Regions from separate parts of the Homo sapiens genome. Here region 2 is linked to region 1. A link means that fine-mapping ties the variant in region 1 to the expression of a gene that starts in the linked region. Tissue or cell type: prefrontal cortex. Region 1 holds a variant in brackets; the other region holds the start of a gene. All regions are shown on one strand. Distances are between the middles of the regions.

Region 1 (8,104 bases):
AGATTTTTATATAAGAATAGTCATCATAATATTATTTATAAAAAAGAAAAATTAAACACAACCAAAACAACAGGGTTTGGCTAAATAGATTCTGATATATTCAATAACTATGTACATAATGTTTTTTGAAGTTCTCTTTTAATGATATGAGAAAGGACGTATAACCTAATGTTAATAAAAGCAATAATGAAACATCCAACCCATTCAGATACACACATAAAATACAAATAAGACTGAAGGAAACAGCTGAGAATTAGTAAATACCTCTAGGATTTAGGGTGACCTTCATTTCCTTCTGTTTACATTTTTGAATATTTCCAAATTTTCTACAGTGAACATGTGTCCTTTATCAGAAAAAAAAGTGGGGTCTCATTTTGTTTTTATACCTGAAGAAATTTGCTGTATTTGCCGTTTCTTTACTGACTCATAGAGATTAATAGGAATCAGGACTCTTTACTGACTCATAGAAATTAACAGGAGTCGGGACTAAAGGATGAAATAACAGTAGGGAAAACTAAGAAGTTTTTCCTTCATCTTTTAAACTACGCAAGTCACTAGCACCTACCTGTAGCTCTGTGGTCATCACGTCACCAAACTGAAGCCAGAAGTAAGTGCTTCTTTATTTATTTGCTCCCCAGTGTCGCCTCTATGACCTGCGGGCAGATAGGGAGGTTGCCATCTATTCCAAAGAAAGCATCATATTTGGAGCATCCAGCGTGGACTTCTCCCTCAGTGGTAAGATTTTATTTCAGAAACTTTTCCCAGGACTGTAAGACAGGACCAGAATGAAACTAGCGCTCCATCATCGCTCAGTTCCTTTTCATCAACTGAGCTTCCTGTGGACCAGTATGCGAAATCATCCATATTTGCACCAGTTTTCCTCCTCTGAGCTTCTGACCTCCCACTTTGTCCTGCCCCAGGCAACTTCACTCCAGGGGGAAATGAAGGCTGTGTACCCACCTAATGCTGTCCTTCAAGGCAATGAAGTGTCAGAAATTCACTTCCACAATGCTCTCAGGCATTTTCTCCCCAGCCTTTGCTTCTCTTCATGCCCCAAAGGGAACTTTTCTGTAAGGTGGAGGTGAAGCAAGAGTCCCTTCTTGGTGGGATACTGTGGCTCACGCCTGTAATCCCAGCACTTTGGGAGGCCGAGACAGGCGATCACTTGAGGTCAGGAGTTCAAAACCAGCCTGGCCAACATGGTGAAACCTTGTCTCTAATAAAAATACAAAAATTGGTTGGGCATGGTGGCGCATGCCTGTAATCCCAGCTACTCAGGAGGCTGAGGCAGGAGAATCGCTTGAACCTGGAAAATGGAGCTTGCAGTGAGCTGAGATCGTGCCACTGCACTCCACCCTGGGCAACAGAGCGAGACTCTGACTCAAAGGGAAAAAAAAAATGAGTCCCTTCTCAGTGCCTTGAAGCTCATGGCTCCTTTGTGGGAAGCTGCTGGTGAAAAAGCATAGCTCCAGAAGGATCATGTCAAAAAAAGAAAGAAAAATAGAAAGTTAAAGCAGAGGTAACAGGCTGGCTACCTGGACCACTCCATTTCCCCAGACACATCCCTAGACTAACTGCACGTGAAGTTCCTGCTACTGCCTGGAACATCTTTTCCCTGCCTTCTCTGCATGACAGACTCCGATTCAACCCTCAAGAGCCAACTCAAATGTCACTTTAACTTTCTCTCTTTAAACAAGTTTTACAAGTTGTTAACTAGCAAATGACTAAAAATAATTTACTTGTGTCTGCAGTGCCCTCCTTAATCCCCCTTCCTCTCTGGTCCCATAGCACTTTACGTGTGTAAAGCACTTGCATTATGGCTGTTACCATGGGATGCTACAGTGATCTGTTCCTTTCAGCCCCACATCCTCCAACAGGGACAGGGACTGTGCTTTCTCCCCTTTGAATCCTTGAGGCAAAGCACAGTGCCTAGGACTCAGTGCGCCTGAATCACTGCTTACTGAATGAGTGAGTAACAGTCATGTAATGAGAAACAGGAAGCAAGGAACTGGCTTAACAGCTATCATCTCACCCTGCTTCAAGGTCGCCTGCTGTTTGCTGGATACAATGATTACACTATCAACGTCTGGGATGTTCTCAAAGGGTCCCGGGTCTCCATCCTGTTTGGACATGAAAACCGCGTTAGCACTCTACGAGTTTCCCCCGATGGGACTGCTTTCTGCTCTGGATCATGGGATCATACCCTCAGAGTAAGAGGGATGGTTTTCTGTTTTCCTGTGTGTGAGAGGAGAGAGGACTGGTGACAGGCCTTCTGAAGCAGAGGGAAGGCTATCAGAGTAAGCTCAGGTGGGCCTGGTCAGCCTCGCCGAGCTCTCATTTCCACTCTGCCCACAGCCACAGAGGGAATGGGTTGCCTGGAGAGGTAGCGAGTGCTGCATCAGTGCAGGTATTCTCGCACAGATTCGACAACTGCGTATCAGCCTGTAGGTGAGGGAATAGTTAGGCTTGATCATCCAGAAAGTTCCTTTTGACCCTAAAAGTCTGATTCTTGTGATTCTAGCCTTTGGCAAACCACAGATAACCAGTCTCTCCTCCTATAGTATAGGGTTCTTATTACGATTATTGACCTTGTGATGACAAGGGTCACAAATCCAGGAGGCTGTGAAGCCCCTGAAATTATTACTTTTTTCTTCCTTTTTTTTTTTTTTTTTTTTTTGGTTTTTCTATAGCTTAATCTTGGAAATGAAGCCCCTGAAATTATATGCCAAATTTGGGGTGTATGCCTTTTGTCCTCGTGGCTTTCATTAAATTCTCAAAGAGAGCTCCATAACCTTGTTGAGTGTTGGCTCACCCAAAATACTACCAAAATAGCCTGTTTAAGCTGGGCATGGTGGCTTATGCCTGTAATTGTAGCACTTTGGGAGGCCAAGTCAGGCGGATCACTTGAGGTCAGGAGTTCCAGACCAGCCTGGGCAACATGGTGAAACCCTGTCTCTACTAAAAATACAAAAATCAGCCAGGCGTGGTGGCATGCACCTGTAGTCCCGGCTACTCGGGAGGCTGAGGCTGGAGAATCGCTTGAACCCAGGAGGCAGAGGTTGCAGTGAGCCAAGATCATCCCACTGCACTCCAGGCTGGGCAACAGAGCAAGACTCTGTCTCAAAAAAAAAAAAAAAA[AG/G]TAGCCCATTCATAGAGCAAAGCTAAATTTATTGCTTACCTCAGTGTGGAACATCAAGAATTGGTAGAGGTGTAGTGGCATCTCAGAAGAGGATGACAAAGGCATGCATGAGGTTTTTTTGGTCTGGTTTAAGGCAGGTCTTTGTTGGGGGGCACTTAATTAGGATTGGACAACTTTGTGGCATAATAGTTTTAGGATTGCTGGATGCAGGGGTGGGGGAGGGTTTCGAACAAACCCTTTAAAACTAAATAGTCATTTGATGCTCTATATTGTCCTGAGACATGGGTGTGTTTTCTAAAGAGGGTAAGTTGAGTAGTCTAGTGTTAGGATAGAGAAAAGGATTTTTGCAAAATTCCTGAAACAAATAAAAAAGTTATCTGTGAGTTCATCTTCCTGGGTAAGAGTGTCCTAAGTGAGTAGTCATGTTAATGTATATGGTGAGCTGTATGGGTTCAAATGGTTTTGGTTGTCAATCTGGAAGAGTAGCTAGGCCCGTAAGGAGGCTGCAGATGCCCCACAGACAATTAACTAAGGGAGGAGAAGATCAGGTCCAAAGAAGCACCTTTGCATTGCTAGGAGTACAGTGTTATCCTTCTAAGGCACATGAGCACCCTATTTTGGATGGAGTGTGTATGTTTGTGTGTGTGTGTGTGTACACACACATATATGTATGCCCATGCATGTGTGTGAATAGACTAATTTTATCTCTTTAAGCTCAAGTTTTATAAGTTGTTAACTACAAAGGTCTAAAAACTATCTGTTTGTGTCTTCACAGGTCTGGGCCTAATCATCTTCTGACAGTGCACTCATGTATACCTGAGAATTTGAAATCTTCACATGTAAATAGATATTACTTCTAGAGGAGCTTAGAGTTTATTGCAGTGTAGCTTAGGGGAGCAACCCATGGCTCACAGGTCACTAAGCGTCTCCAATATGACTATTAAAACTGTCACCTCTGGAAATACACTAGTGTGAGCCTTCAGCACTGCGAGAATACCTTCAAGTACAGTATTTTTCTTTTGGAACACTTTTTAAAATGTATCTGTTTTTAAGGTTATTCTAAATTATAGTAGCCTCAACTCATTCTGTCACCAGTAGAATTCAGCAGTTAATATATTCCATATTATTTCTTTGAATCAATTCATTTTCAGAGCACTTTAAAGTCTGATATTTCTCGATGTGCACTGTGATGCCTGGAACCTTCCTCTGGAAGTGCTGATTTTATGGACTGAGGACTGGTGACTGGTCTGTGATAGAAGCAAATTCCAATTCCAAATGTAATTAGACAAAAATCATTTTTTTAGAATGTGTTTTTATTGTAAAAGTATCTTTTTCAGCTTCCTGTTCTATTGTCTTTTTTCAGATACAACATTTTTGTCTATGGTGAACTGCTGTAAATGACGCAGAGAAATGCCTAAAAAGGACAGGTGGTTTGACTCATGGATGATGATGATGTCACTGTGCCACTTGGACAGGGCGTTTTCTCTGAATTGAAGGGAAAGCCAATGGTGTTTGTAAACAAATGCTTCTGAGAGCAAAGAAAAGTCTTCTGTGTGGGAACACAAGATAGTAAACTTATTTAAAAACCTATTAGTAGAATTAGTGGAAACACTTAGGTTAAAGTGAATCTTGTCCATATAAATTATATTCATGGCCGGGCGCGGTGGCTCACGCTTGTAATCCCAGCACTTTGGGAGGCCGAGGCGGGCGGATCACGAGGTCAGGAGTTCGAGACCACGGTGAAACCCTGTCTCTACTAAAAAATACAAAAAATTAGCCGGGCGTGGTGGCGGGCGCCTGTAGTCCCAGCTACTCGGAGAGGCTGAGGCAGGAGAATGGCGTGAACCCGGGAGGTGGAGCTTGCAGTGAGCCGAGGTCGAGCCACTGCAGCCTGGGTGACAAAGCGAGACTCCGTCTCAAAAAAAAAAAAAAATTATATTCATATGTATTGCATTGCAATTATAATTACATATGCAGATTGATTGATAGTCATGAATAATAACGTCTGCTCCTCTTACATAGAAAAACGATATTAAAAGAAGATCTTCTCTTTATTTGAGACTCAGAATTCCTTCTAGAAGAAGGAAGTGCTTTTTGTTATAGGATCCCTTCTTTTCCTTTTTTTGTTTTTTTGTAAGATGTAGATGCTTATTCTTTGCTTTAGAAAACTTCTCACTTAAAAAGATGGCATGCACCTAGGGGAATAAAAGGTCACCTCAGACACCAGGTGTCATTCCTGGTGAGGCCTGCCTCGTCGGTGGCCTGGGGTCTGCCGGCAGGTTCTGGCTGCACCTGAAGGCTGCGTGCACCTTGTCCCCTGGACAGGTCTCCTTTCCTGGCCCTGCTCCAGCCCAGCCCTTCTTCTAGTGGTAGCTCTGGCTTTGCAGGCCCAGCTCCAGGCCCTGCTCCTCAGAGAGACTCTTCCAGAGCTGGAGCTGGGCACAGCCATAAGACAGGACTGGACCAGATGCTCCTGTAAACATCCAGGGGTGTGCCAGGCCCACCCTCACAACTGCTTGTTCAGGTATCGTGATGGGCCACTCGGTCCAAAATCAGCCAGGCCATCTTTTCCATCATCTCACTTCAAATAAACATAATAATTATATTTGATCATTTGCAGAGCAGTTACTGGTGGTTTTATTGTACACTGGGGTCTGGGGTAGAGAGAGAAAAATGAAGGGCCTCTGCCTTCCTCCAGGGAGCCCAGAGAGAGTGCTTTTTAGTCCCAGTAGATTCCAGTCTGGGCAGGGGCTCAGGAAATGGGCCCAGTGTCTGGCCAGCTCCTGCCAGGTGCTGAAGGGGTCAGGGCACCATGGGATTCCTGAGCTCTGCTCCAGAATGTCCCACAGTGGCCCCTGGTGCAGCTGGCCTCCTTGTGGTGGCATCCCCAACCCTCTCTCCCACAGCCATTTTTTTTTTTGTCTCTGCACTGTGCCTTCCGGCTCCCAGAAGTGCAGGAAGGCACGAGAAAGGAAGGAAAGGTGGCCCAGGGAAGCACATTCCAGGTTCCATGTTTGGAGAGGTGGAGAGCATCTTCAGGATATGTGCAAAGTAGACTGTGACTTTCCAATCCAAAAAGCCACTTTAAGGGCCCAGGGAAAGTATTCCAGAGAATGCTTCCACTCCCCGCATGGGCAGGAAGCCTCCTTCGCTGTGAGCATGCGCTCTCGCAGTGGGTGCTGTCGGGATTTGCTGATGAGATACTTGATTTGGACTATGTGACAGCATGTGGAGACTCAGGGGTAAGCTCCATGGGATAGATTGTATTTTGCAGATTGAAAATAATGCTGAGTGCATTTTATAATCAGCTTTTCTTTTTTCCAGAGGACTTGGGGATAAACCTACCAAACCAATTGTGGTGAAGGGGCCAAACAGATGGGCCCCCAGGGGTGTAGAGCCTTGGGCAGCCCCCTCCTGGGCCAGAAAAAAGAAAGTTCAGGCAGAAAGGTGTGGGTGATGGGTATTTATGGGAAATATCTGTGACATGAAGCCAAGTCCAGTGCTTTAGAATGCGCGGTCAGCCTCTCACCGGTGGGGCCCTGGCAGCCGTCCCTCTTCTCCCAGGCGAGCCAGAGGTGGGCATCCCGTTGCCACTGCCCTCTTCCCGCTCTTCTACCTCCTTTGCACCCTTCTCTAGGTTATAAGTGGCTTAAAACAGCACAGGGTTGTAAGGGCCTTTGTGTCCCGGGCTCTCATAGTTGCCAGGCCAGCTGGCTGAAAGGTGGCACCACCGATACTGGGACTCCTCTGTGAGTTAGAGGGATGCCTTGGTGACATAAGAGGGCTGGCCTTCATTCACACCCACCTCTGTCACGGTCACAGAATATATGATAATATCTGAGTTTTTCTCAGCCTCAGTTTCCCCATTTGTAACATGGGATGGGACTAAAATATGTAAAGTGCCTACCTCAGCCTTTAGCACATCTTCAGGAAGGGTTAGTTCCCAGCTTCTCCCTGTGTCCTCCTCAGTCCCCTTCCTATTTGCCCCCCTCCCTTCTCCCTCCACCTATCTTCCCTCTTTCTCTTCCCTTCCCCTCCTCCTCCCTCTCTCCTCCCTCTCTCCCATTTCCCCCTCCCTCCCTCCCATCTCCTCCTCCCTCCCTCCCATCTCCTCCTCCTCCCTCCCATCTCCTCCCTCCCATCTCCTCCTCCCTCCCATCTCCTCCTCCCTCCCATCTCCTCCTCCCTCCCATCTCCTCCTCCCTTCCTCCTGTCACCCCTCCTCCCTCCCTCTCATCACCTCCTCCCTCCCTCCCATCGCCTCCTCTCTCCTTCCTATCTCCTCTTTCCTCTTCTCTGCCCCCTCCCCCTCTCCTCATTCATCCGGACTCCTTTTTCTAACCCTTCTCAATCTTCCCCCATTCCTCATCTCCTCTTCCTCTGTCTCCCTGTTCCACCTCTCTCCTGGTCTCCTTCCTTCCCCTTCTGCTGTTTCTCCCTCCCTCCTCCTCCCTTCCCATTCCCCTTCCCCCAGCACTTCCTTTTCTCCCCATCTCCTCCCCATTCCCCTTCCCCCAGCTCTTTCTTTTCTCCCCATCTCCTCCCCATCCATAGGCAGCCCCCACTCATATAGCAAATTAGTAATTCTCATCAGTTAGAGCTTCGTCTGGGCTAGTGGTTCTCAAACTTTTTGGTCTTAGGATCTCTGTACACTTTTTTTTTTTTTTTTTTTTTACGTGGAGTTTTGCTCTTGTTGCCCAGGCTGGAGTGCAGTGGCGCGATCTCGGGCTCACTTCAACCTCCGCCTCCTGGGTTCAAGCGATTCTCCTGCCTCAGCCTCCCGAGTAGCTGGGATTACAAGGCATGCACCACCACGCCCGGCTAATTTTGTATTTTTAGTAGAGACCAGGTTTCTCCATGTTGGTCACACTGGTCTCGAACTCCCAACCTCAGGTGATCCTCCCACCTTGGCCTCCCAAAGTGCTGGGATTACAGGTGTAAGCCACCGTGCCCAGCCTACACCCT
Region 2 (8,104 bases), 69 kb before region 1:
GAGACTAGTCTGGGCAACATAACAAGACGCTCTACCAAAAAAAAAAAAAAAAAAAAAAAAAAAAAAAAGCTGGGTGTGATGGCACACACCTTTGGTCCCAGCTACTTGGGAGGCTGAGGCGGGAGGATCGCATGAGTCCAGGGGTTCGAGGCTGCAGTGAGCCATGATCATGCCACTGCACCCCAGCCTGGGCAATAAAGGGAGACCCTATCTCAAAAATAATAATAATAATAATCACACACACACATATACACAAATGTCTATGATGCATTCATTCCCTGCCCATTAAACTCACAAATGTGTATGTGGAGGGGTGGCCATGTGGGAGGTGGGGAGGCTAGAAGGGGGCTCCTCTTACTGTTTTCTGATTATCTGATTTGCCTTTGCTCCCTAAGGCACTTTTCTCCCCTTGTTTTCTTTTCTTGGAAATAGGTAACATACAGTTCCTGAACCAAATTATAGGCTAAAAGAACCACCTGTGCTTCCCAATGGTTCCCAATAACCAGAACCATTATTTTATGAACAGAGTTATTATTTTGCATGGTCTAACACCATGTTATGTACCGTTTGCAGATCATAAAGATCCTTAATTCATACACACCTATAGATGACTTTGAGAAGAGAGTGACTCCATCCTTTGTTCGCAAAGTACAGGTGAGATTCTTAAGGATGTGCCTTTTAATTTTACTTCCTAACTATGGTATAAGATGTTGATACTTAATTAACATTATAGAAATCCAGGATTAAAGTACATTTACCCACATATACAAATGAAAGGCACCCAGCTCAAAGGTAAGCAGGAAATTTTCCTGTGAAATTTTCAGAATCCACCTTAGTCCAGGTGGGAGGGGAATGAAAGCACCAAAATCATGTCTCCCGTGCTGTATTCTGTCAATATATCTTATTTCTTACTGATCGTTGAATACTGTGCAAGTGGGCAGAGGCTGAATGGAAACAGAGACCATTTTTCTTTTATAATCATTTGTATAACCATTTTTTCTTATATAATCCCTAAAGTTTGTCCCCTAAGGAACTCTAGGGCAGCAGTTCTCCAAGTTTGGCTCAAGGATCCCTGGGAGTCCTTGAGACACTTTCAAGAGGGTCTGCAAAACTCTTCCTTTTTCTAAATATGTACCTGTGGATTTTCTAAGTAGGTATCTGTGGATTTTCTCAATAGTTATCTGTGGATTTTCTTCGTGTACTTCAACCAAAATAACATATCACAACAGATTGAATGCAGAAGCAGATATATATGATATATCGTATATATGATAATATAGCATATATATTAAAATATGGCGTATATAATATATGGTTATATATGATAATATATTAAGTCAGACATGAAAGAGATTTGCAAAAATAGAAAATACCACTTCTCACTAAATTTTCTTTGTTTTGGAAACTTATGTTTAACATGTGTAGAGCTTATTTTAATGAATTAATAAATCATTTTAATTACTAATATGGCAAATACCGATATACACATATACACAATGTATATTTAATTACTAATATGGCAAATGCCAATATACCCATATACACAAAAGCTTTTGGGGCCTCAGTCATGTTTTAGTATAAAGCGGTCCTGAGACCAAAAAGGTTGCAAACCCATGAATGAAGAAGAAAGATGGGTTCAATAAAAATGTAATACTTGAAATCTACTCATGTTTGACCTTAGAATTATGCCATGAGAATAGATTAGAATAGAAAACAGATTTATGGTCAACTCATCCCATGGGAAATTAACTTCTGAAGTGAAACAGGACAAGTTAATTGTTCTGAGAGCTGATCTGGAAGCCCTGGATAGACTTTGGAATTGTGCTGTTGTTAAAAAGTTCTCATGTATGTCATTTCATGTGATGGTGCAAGGAGCTCTCCACTAGAGATAGCTGTGTTTTGCCTTGACTTTCAGGTAGCAGTAAAGCAGAACATGTTAGTTTCCTTACTCATTTTTCCTCTGATTCTAATTTCAGGCTCTCCTAAATAGCCGGGAGGATTCATCACAGCTGATGTTGGATACCAAATATCTCTTTCAAGTCACATTTCCTTTTACCCCCTCTCCACATGCTCTGGAAATGATTCAGATCCCCAGCAGTTTCAAGCTAGGCTTTCTGAATAGGTTATAGCAGGAGAAAAAGTCAATGCACTTTTTCTTCAAAAGCTAAGTGAAGGTTCAATATGAGGGATGTGTTTTATTAATTGGCAGTGGAAATTGGAATGTGATTTAAGGAAGAAAACAGACTTTTCTCAAATGGACCACATCATCTCTCACTCACAGTGACAATGCTGCTCCTGTAATTTTGTAAGAATTCACACACACCAGCTGTATTTGGAAAAGCCATGTCTCACTCTCGAATCTCAGCTGGTTTTCACTGAAATTCCTGGAGGGCTCATATTTTCTTCCACGTGCCTCTTGATCTGTTCTGTCTTGTGGCAGGGCTCTACCAGGAGGGAGTGAGATCTGGGGACACAGTGGCTTCCAAGTTTTCTAAGGTTCATGTGAAACCTGAGTACATTTACAAAGCTGCAAGTGGATTCTAGTGCTGAGTCTTCCAGGAAAAAATCCCGTTTGGCCACCGTGACCTGCCAAAAGTTCTCTTGCCCCATGCCTGCTGGGGACAGAAGGTTTTCATGAACTCTTTTTACTGAAAATGCCCTGCATTTAAAAATGTTTATTTTAGACCCTTCTAAATTTTTTTTTTTTTTTTTTTTTGAGACTCCGGAGTCTCGCTCTATCGCCAGGCTGGAGTGTAGTGGCATGATCTCGGCTTATTGCAACCTCCGCTTCCTGGGTTCAAACAATTCTCCTGCCTCAGCCTCCTGAGTAGCTGGGACTACAGGCACCTGCCACCACGCCCAGCTAATTTTTGTATTTTTAGTGGAGACAGGTTTCACCATGTTGGCCAGGATGGCCTCGATCTCTTGACCTCGTGATCCGCCCACCTCAGCCTCCCAAAGTGCTAGGATTACAGGCGTGTGCCACCGCGCCCGGCTGACCCTTTTAATTTTTAAGAGTGTTCAATCCGAGATGAATCATTTGAAGTATTTTTATATGTATATCTATTTAAAACTAATATATTATTAAAGCTTAATTGCCATGCCGTTTATCTTCTCTGAAAGAACTTCAAATCTTACCTGCCAACATATTCACCATAATTTTTTTATTTTTTAATACCTTTCATACAATAACTTTTTTAAAACAACCTCAGATTGAAAAAGCAACCTAAATTACTTTCGCTCTCTAATCAGCATTTCAATGTATTTATTTTTAAATTTTCTCAAAAAGTAACTAAAAAATTGTGTCGGACCCTACTTTTGAGAAATCTACGTTTCCCAAGTTTTATGGGAACTGGCTATTCCTTGTCCCGGCACACCTTCTCATTCCTTCCTTTCAGAGCCTAAAACCTCATTTGATAAGCACTCCTAGTCTCTGGCCTGTGGATCCAGTGCTATTCTGTCACCAACCTAAGAATCCCAATTGCACCTTCTGTTTCTGACAGTCACAGGTGACAGCTGTGATTCTATAATACAGACTGGTGTCTTAGAGGTAGGAATAATACATGATTATGAAGCATCACCCTGCTAATACATAATAATGTCTTTTTATATTATAAGTGATTGAGTTTAGTTCATTTCAATACATTGTACATGAAAAAATGAAAAGTAGAACTTTGTAATACTTTAATCAATAAAATTAATTACCAAATGAATTGGGTCAGATTCTTTCATTGCGAGGAGATGACATGTCTCTTAAGTGTACAAGTTGTATGCCTTTCTTTACGGTCATACTGAAAGATGCTAGAATCTTTATAGATTCATAATATCTCATTTAAAGTATATTAAAATGTTTAGAGAAGAAGTAAATATGTCATAAGTGCTGGCTTAGGCTGTGTCTCCAGGGCGCTTCCACACTGTCAGAATGAGGGGCTACTTGGCAGAGAATTGGCAGGGTTTCTGATCCTGAGCTGCGGCCTCCATGCCCTTTCTAGACCTTCCCCACACCATGAGGAGCCATCACTGTTGGTTTTCGGCTTCCATAACTCAGGATTTATGCCTGTTTTATAGCACTTACCCTGGACTGGAAGCCAGAAATGCTGCCCATTTCCTCTGTAGGCCTGTGAGCCCCAGAGGGCAGGTGCCACATCCTCCTCATCCCTGCCTTCATCCTACTGCTGATGAGGTGGGAAGAGAACTGAAGGAGCAAAGTCCCGTTGGAGGACTGTGTGTGTGTGGTGGGGAGTCAACCATGGGAAAAAGTAGGTCATGTTTGGGGACAGGGAGACCTGTGGAGGCTGAGGAGTTTATGTGTGGAAAAATGGGGAAAGGGAGGCACTCATCCCACAGTCTTGATCAGTTCTACAAAGCTGACAGTGGCAAGGAGACCAAAATAGAGAAATGTTAAGAACATGTGGCCCAGGTGAATGTGAGGGCTGCTCAGTGAGTGGGCGCAGACACAGAGGTCAAACCTGCCAAGGCCTCCCTCCACAGAGGGGCTGGGCAGGTTCCAGGGGTGAGTGAGGGATGCAGATGGCAGTGCGTGCCCAGCAGGGAGCATGGAAGTGCTGTGGAGGAAGGAAGCAAGCTGAGCAGCACTCCAGAGAAGATAAGGAGATTAGCCAGTGGGAGACGTGCTTCACACCTCAAGCTGCGCGCTGGTCCTCACCTCTCACCATCTGCTCTGTGGCTCCCAGTGCTGACTCTGGAAGGTATGTGCATGCTGACATTCGGTTAAAATACTCCAGCTTTTGAAATGCTCAGAAAAGCATCCAGATGAGTACAGGGCACAGTGTTAGCAGGTCTTTCTGTGCGGTGGGAGCATGGGTGAGGGGTTTTGTTGTTGTTAATCCGTAGAATCTAATTTTTCTACAATACACATGAATTTATTTTGAAATAGTAAATTTCAAATATTTCAAATTGAAATATTTCAATATTTTTTACATTAATATTGGCATCAGGAAAGAGATTAAGCATACTTAAAATCACTAAGTCAGTTTTAAAATTTGATCCAGGTGACACATGGCAACATAAGCCTCTGAGTACAGCTTATGGGGTTAGAAAGAGGTTTTTAGTTGTAAGTCTGAGATACATCCACATTGTGTGTATCAGTTATTTTTTATTCTATGCTCATTTCACAGTTTCGTCTGTGACTGGTGAACATTTGGGTCTTTCAAGTTTAGGCCTTCTATGAATAGCTGCTATGACATTTATGTTTTTTTTTTTTTTTTTTTTTTTTTTTTTTTTTTTTTTTTAAGGAAATAAGCATTATTTTCTGTGGTGTATGTATGCACGAGTAGAATTGCCTGGTCATAGACTATATCCGTTTCACTTTAGTAGCTCCTACCAACCAGTTTTCTACAGTGGTTATACCGACTTATACTCCCACTAGCAGAGAAAGGCAGTTCCAGTCTCTGCATCCTTGCCCACACTTTGTGTTGTCAGGCTTTTTAGGTTTTCTGATGGCTAAGTAGTTGTATCACATCGTAGTTTTACTTTGTATTTCTATGATGACTAATGATAATGAGCACCTTTTTATATGTTTATTGACCATATAAGTATCCTCATTTGTGAAGTGACTACACAAGCCTTTTGTCCATTTTAAAAATAATCTTTGGGCTGGGCGCGGTGGCTCATGCCTGTAATCCCAGCACTTTGGGAGGCTGAGGCGGGCAGATCATGAGGTCAGGAGATTGAGAGCATCCTGGTTAACACGGTGAAACCCCATCTCTACTAAAAATACAAGAAATTAGCCGGGTGAGGTGGCGGGCGCCTGTATTCCCAGATATTTGGGAGGCTGAGGCAGGAGAATGGCATGAACCTGGGAGGCGGAGCTTACAGTGAGCCGAGATTGCGCCACTGCACTCCAACCTGGGCGACAGAGCAAGACTCTGTCTAAAAAAAAAAAAAAAAAAATTTATTGAGATATGATGTCCACGTTTTGTTTCATGTTTTAAAACCCATCATTTTAAAACATATATTTCAGTGTTTTTTAAGTTTATTTACAAGGATTTGCAACCATTGCCACTGACTCCAGAGTATTTTCATCACCCCGAAAAAGAAATCCCATACCCCTTAAGCAGCCACTCACTCTCAGCTCCCTCCTTCCCCCTTATTCTCTCTTCCCTCCACCTCGCAACTACTCATCTGCTTCATGTCTCTATGGATTTGCTGATCCTGTACACTTCATATAAATAAATCATACAATATGTGGCCTTTTGTGTCTGGCTTCTGTCATAGGATAGCGTTTTTAAGGTTTGACCATGTTGTAGCATGTGTCAGAACGTCATTCTTTTTTATTGCTGAATAGCAGTCTACTGGAGGGATAGACATTTTGTTTTTCATTTGTCGGTTGGTGGACACTTGGGTTGCTTTCACTTTTGGCTAATAATGCTGCCATGAAAATTAGTATGTACATTTTTATGTGAACATATATTTTCTTTTTTTTTGTTCTGAGACGGAGTCTCACTGCATTGCCCAGGCTGGATTTCAGTGGCGCGATCTTGGCTCACTGCAACCTCCATCCCCCAAGTTCAAGCAGTTCTCATGTCTCAGCCTCCCAAGTAGCTGGGATTACAGGCACCTGCCACCACGCCTGGCTAATTTTTGTATAGTAGATATGGGGTTTCACCATGTTGCCCAGGCTGACCTCAGGTGATCTACCCGCCTGGGCCTTCCAAAGTACTGGGATTACAGGCATGAGCCACCACGCCCAGCCAGTGAACATACATTTTCAAGTATCCTGGGTATATATCTAGAAGTAGGATTGCGGGGTCTTATGGTAACAGCTGTATATTTAAGTTTTGAATAACTGCCAAACCGTTTTCCACAGCTGCACCATTGGAAAACGGCTACCCCACTTTACCTTCCCACCAGCAATGTATGAAGGTCCTTTTGTCCATTTTTAATTGAGTTAATGAAGCAGTATTTTAAAAGTAAAAACTGGATATACCCTATGTATCCAAACACGGAAGTTGGTTTAATAAATTATGACACTCCACAGCATAGAATAATGCTGAACCTATTACCAAACAAGGTTGATCTATAAGTGTTAACAGAATAAGTTAGATGAAGAAAGCAAGTAGCCCTATTTGCATGACTACCAAAGCTGTATCTATGTGTTTGTGCCAGAAAAGTCTGGAAGAATAAACAACAAACTAAGGGCAGTGAAAATGCAGGGCATGTGATGGGGGATTCAAGTTTTACTTTTTCATCTTTGGTACTGGTTCTTTTTAAAATAAACACGTATTTCTGTGGTAATTTTTTAAGTCACATATTTAGGTAAAACAGATATCAAAGAAAGTTTGTGCTTGGCATAAAGTTATTAGGGGAAGGTTTGAGAAGTTCTATGAACTACTGCAGAGCAACTTCATGTCAAAATTTGTTAAATGGGGCATTTCTGTCTTTCTTGTCAAAATGCTCATCGAAACATTGGCTCTAGCTGTGAAAAATTCTCTCATCATAAAAAGGATATTGACAATAAGTACAACAAAGTACTAAAATTTAGCTGATACAAATACTAAGTGAAAAACATCAAGATACAGAAATGTAATCAGTATACATGAACAGTATGACCTCAGTGGTCTCAAATCTATTCTTGCTACACCAAAATGTAAAAAGAAGTTTCTCTGAGTGGTGGGATTATAGGTGATTATCTTCTTCCTTATATCTTTTTTTCCCCCAAACTTTCTACAATGCATATGTATAATATTTACAGTTTAAAAATGCTTTAAATTTAGTTTGTAGCTTGCCCATGTTTAACCAGTGAGGTCTAAAATGCTAGCTATGTGATACGACTTAAGGCCCATAGGACTCAAAAATTGGAGTCTCCGTTAAAAAATGGTGTTTTCCAGTAATATGCAATGACGTGAAGATGAAAATGCTATTATATAAAGTAGTATATGGCATATAATTCCAATTTGTTAAAAAGTACACACATATATACTTATAAAGATACTAGAGGAAAACATAAAATGCCAACAGGTCAGTTGTTGGTGTAGGGCATGTGGGCGATTTACTTTCCCCTTTTTGTGTCCTTCTGTTTCCACTTATTTATTTATTTATTTTTAATTTTTAATTTTCTTTGAGATGGAGTCTCACTCTGTCA

Which allele goes with the higher level. Positions count from the first base shown, and alleles are read on the strand shown. Sizes are in standard deviations (SD) of each study's normalised expression.
For the expression in prefrontal cortex of the gene that starts at base 4,639 in region 2, allele G in region 1 goes with a higher level than allele AG (moderate effect, 0.54 SD a copy in ROSMAP).

Evidence for each region. PIP is the estimated chance that this variant, and not a neighbour inherited with it, causes the effect.
Region 2: it holds the start of GNB5, and the variant in region 1 is fine-mapped to the expression of GNB5 in prefrontal cortex (ROSMAP, PIP 0.95).

The regions. Positions count from the first base shown.
Region 1 is chr15:52,118,579-52,126,682 of GRCh38, reverse strand. GNB5 (G protein subunit beta 5) reads left to right here. Exons shown (of 13, transcript NM_016194.4): 11 at 639-735; 12 at 2,044-2,210; 13 at 3,915-8,104. The coding sequence ends at 3,926. Among named protein-coding and RNA genes, the nearest start is that of BCL2L10, 9.9 kb to the right of the region's middle. The variant AG/G (reference allele first, on the strand shown) is at 3,139.
Region 2 is chr15:52,187,927-52,196,030 of GRCh38, reverse strand. GNB5 (G protein subunit beta 5) reads left to right here and starts at 4,639. Exons shown (of 13, transcript NM_016194.4): 1 at 4,639-4,709. It overlaps MYO5C (myosin VC), which reads left to right. Exons shown (of 41, transcript NM_018728.4): 40 at 574-654; 41 at 1,977-3,709. The coding sequence ends at 2,129. The region is part of intron 2 of CERNA1 (competing endogenous lncRNA 1 for miR-4707-5p and miR-4767); the gene reads right to left. RefSeq lists an enhancer at 4,042-4,541.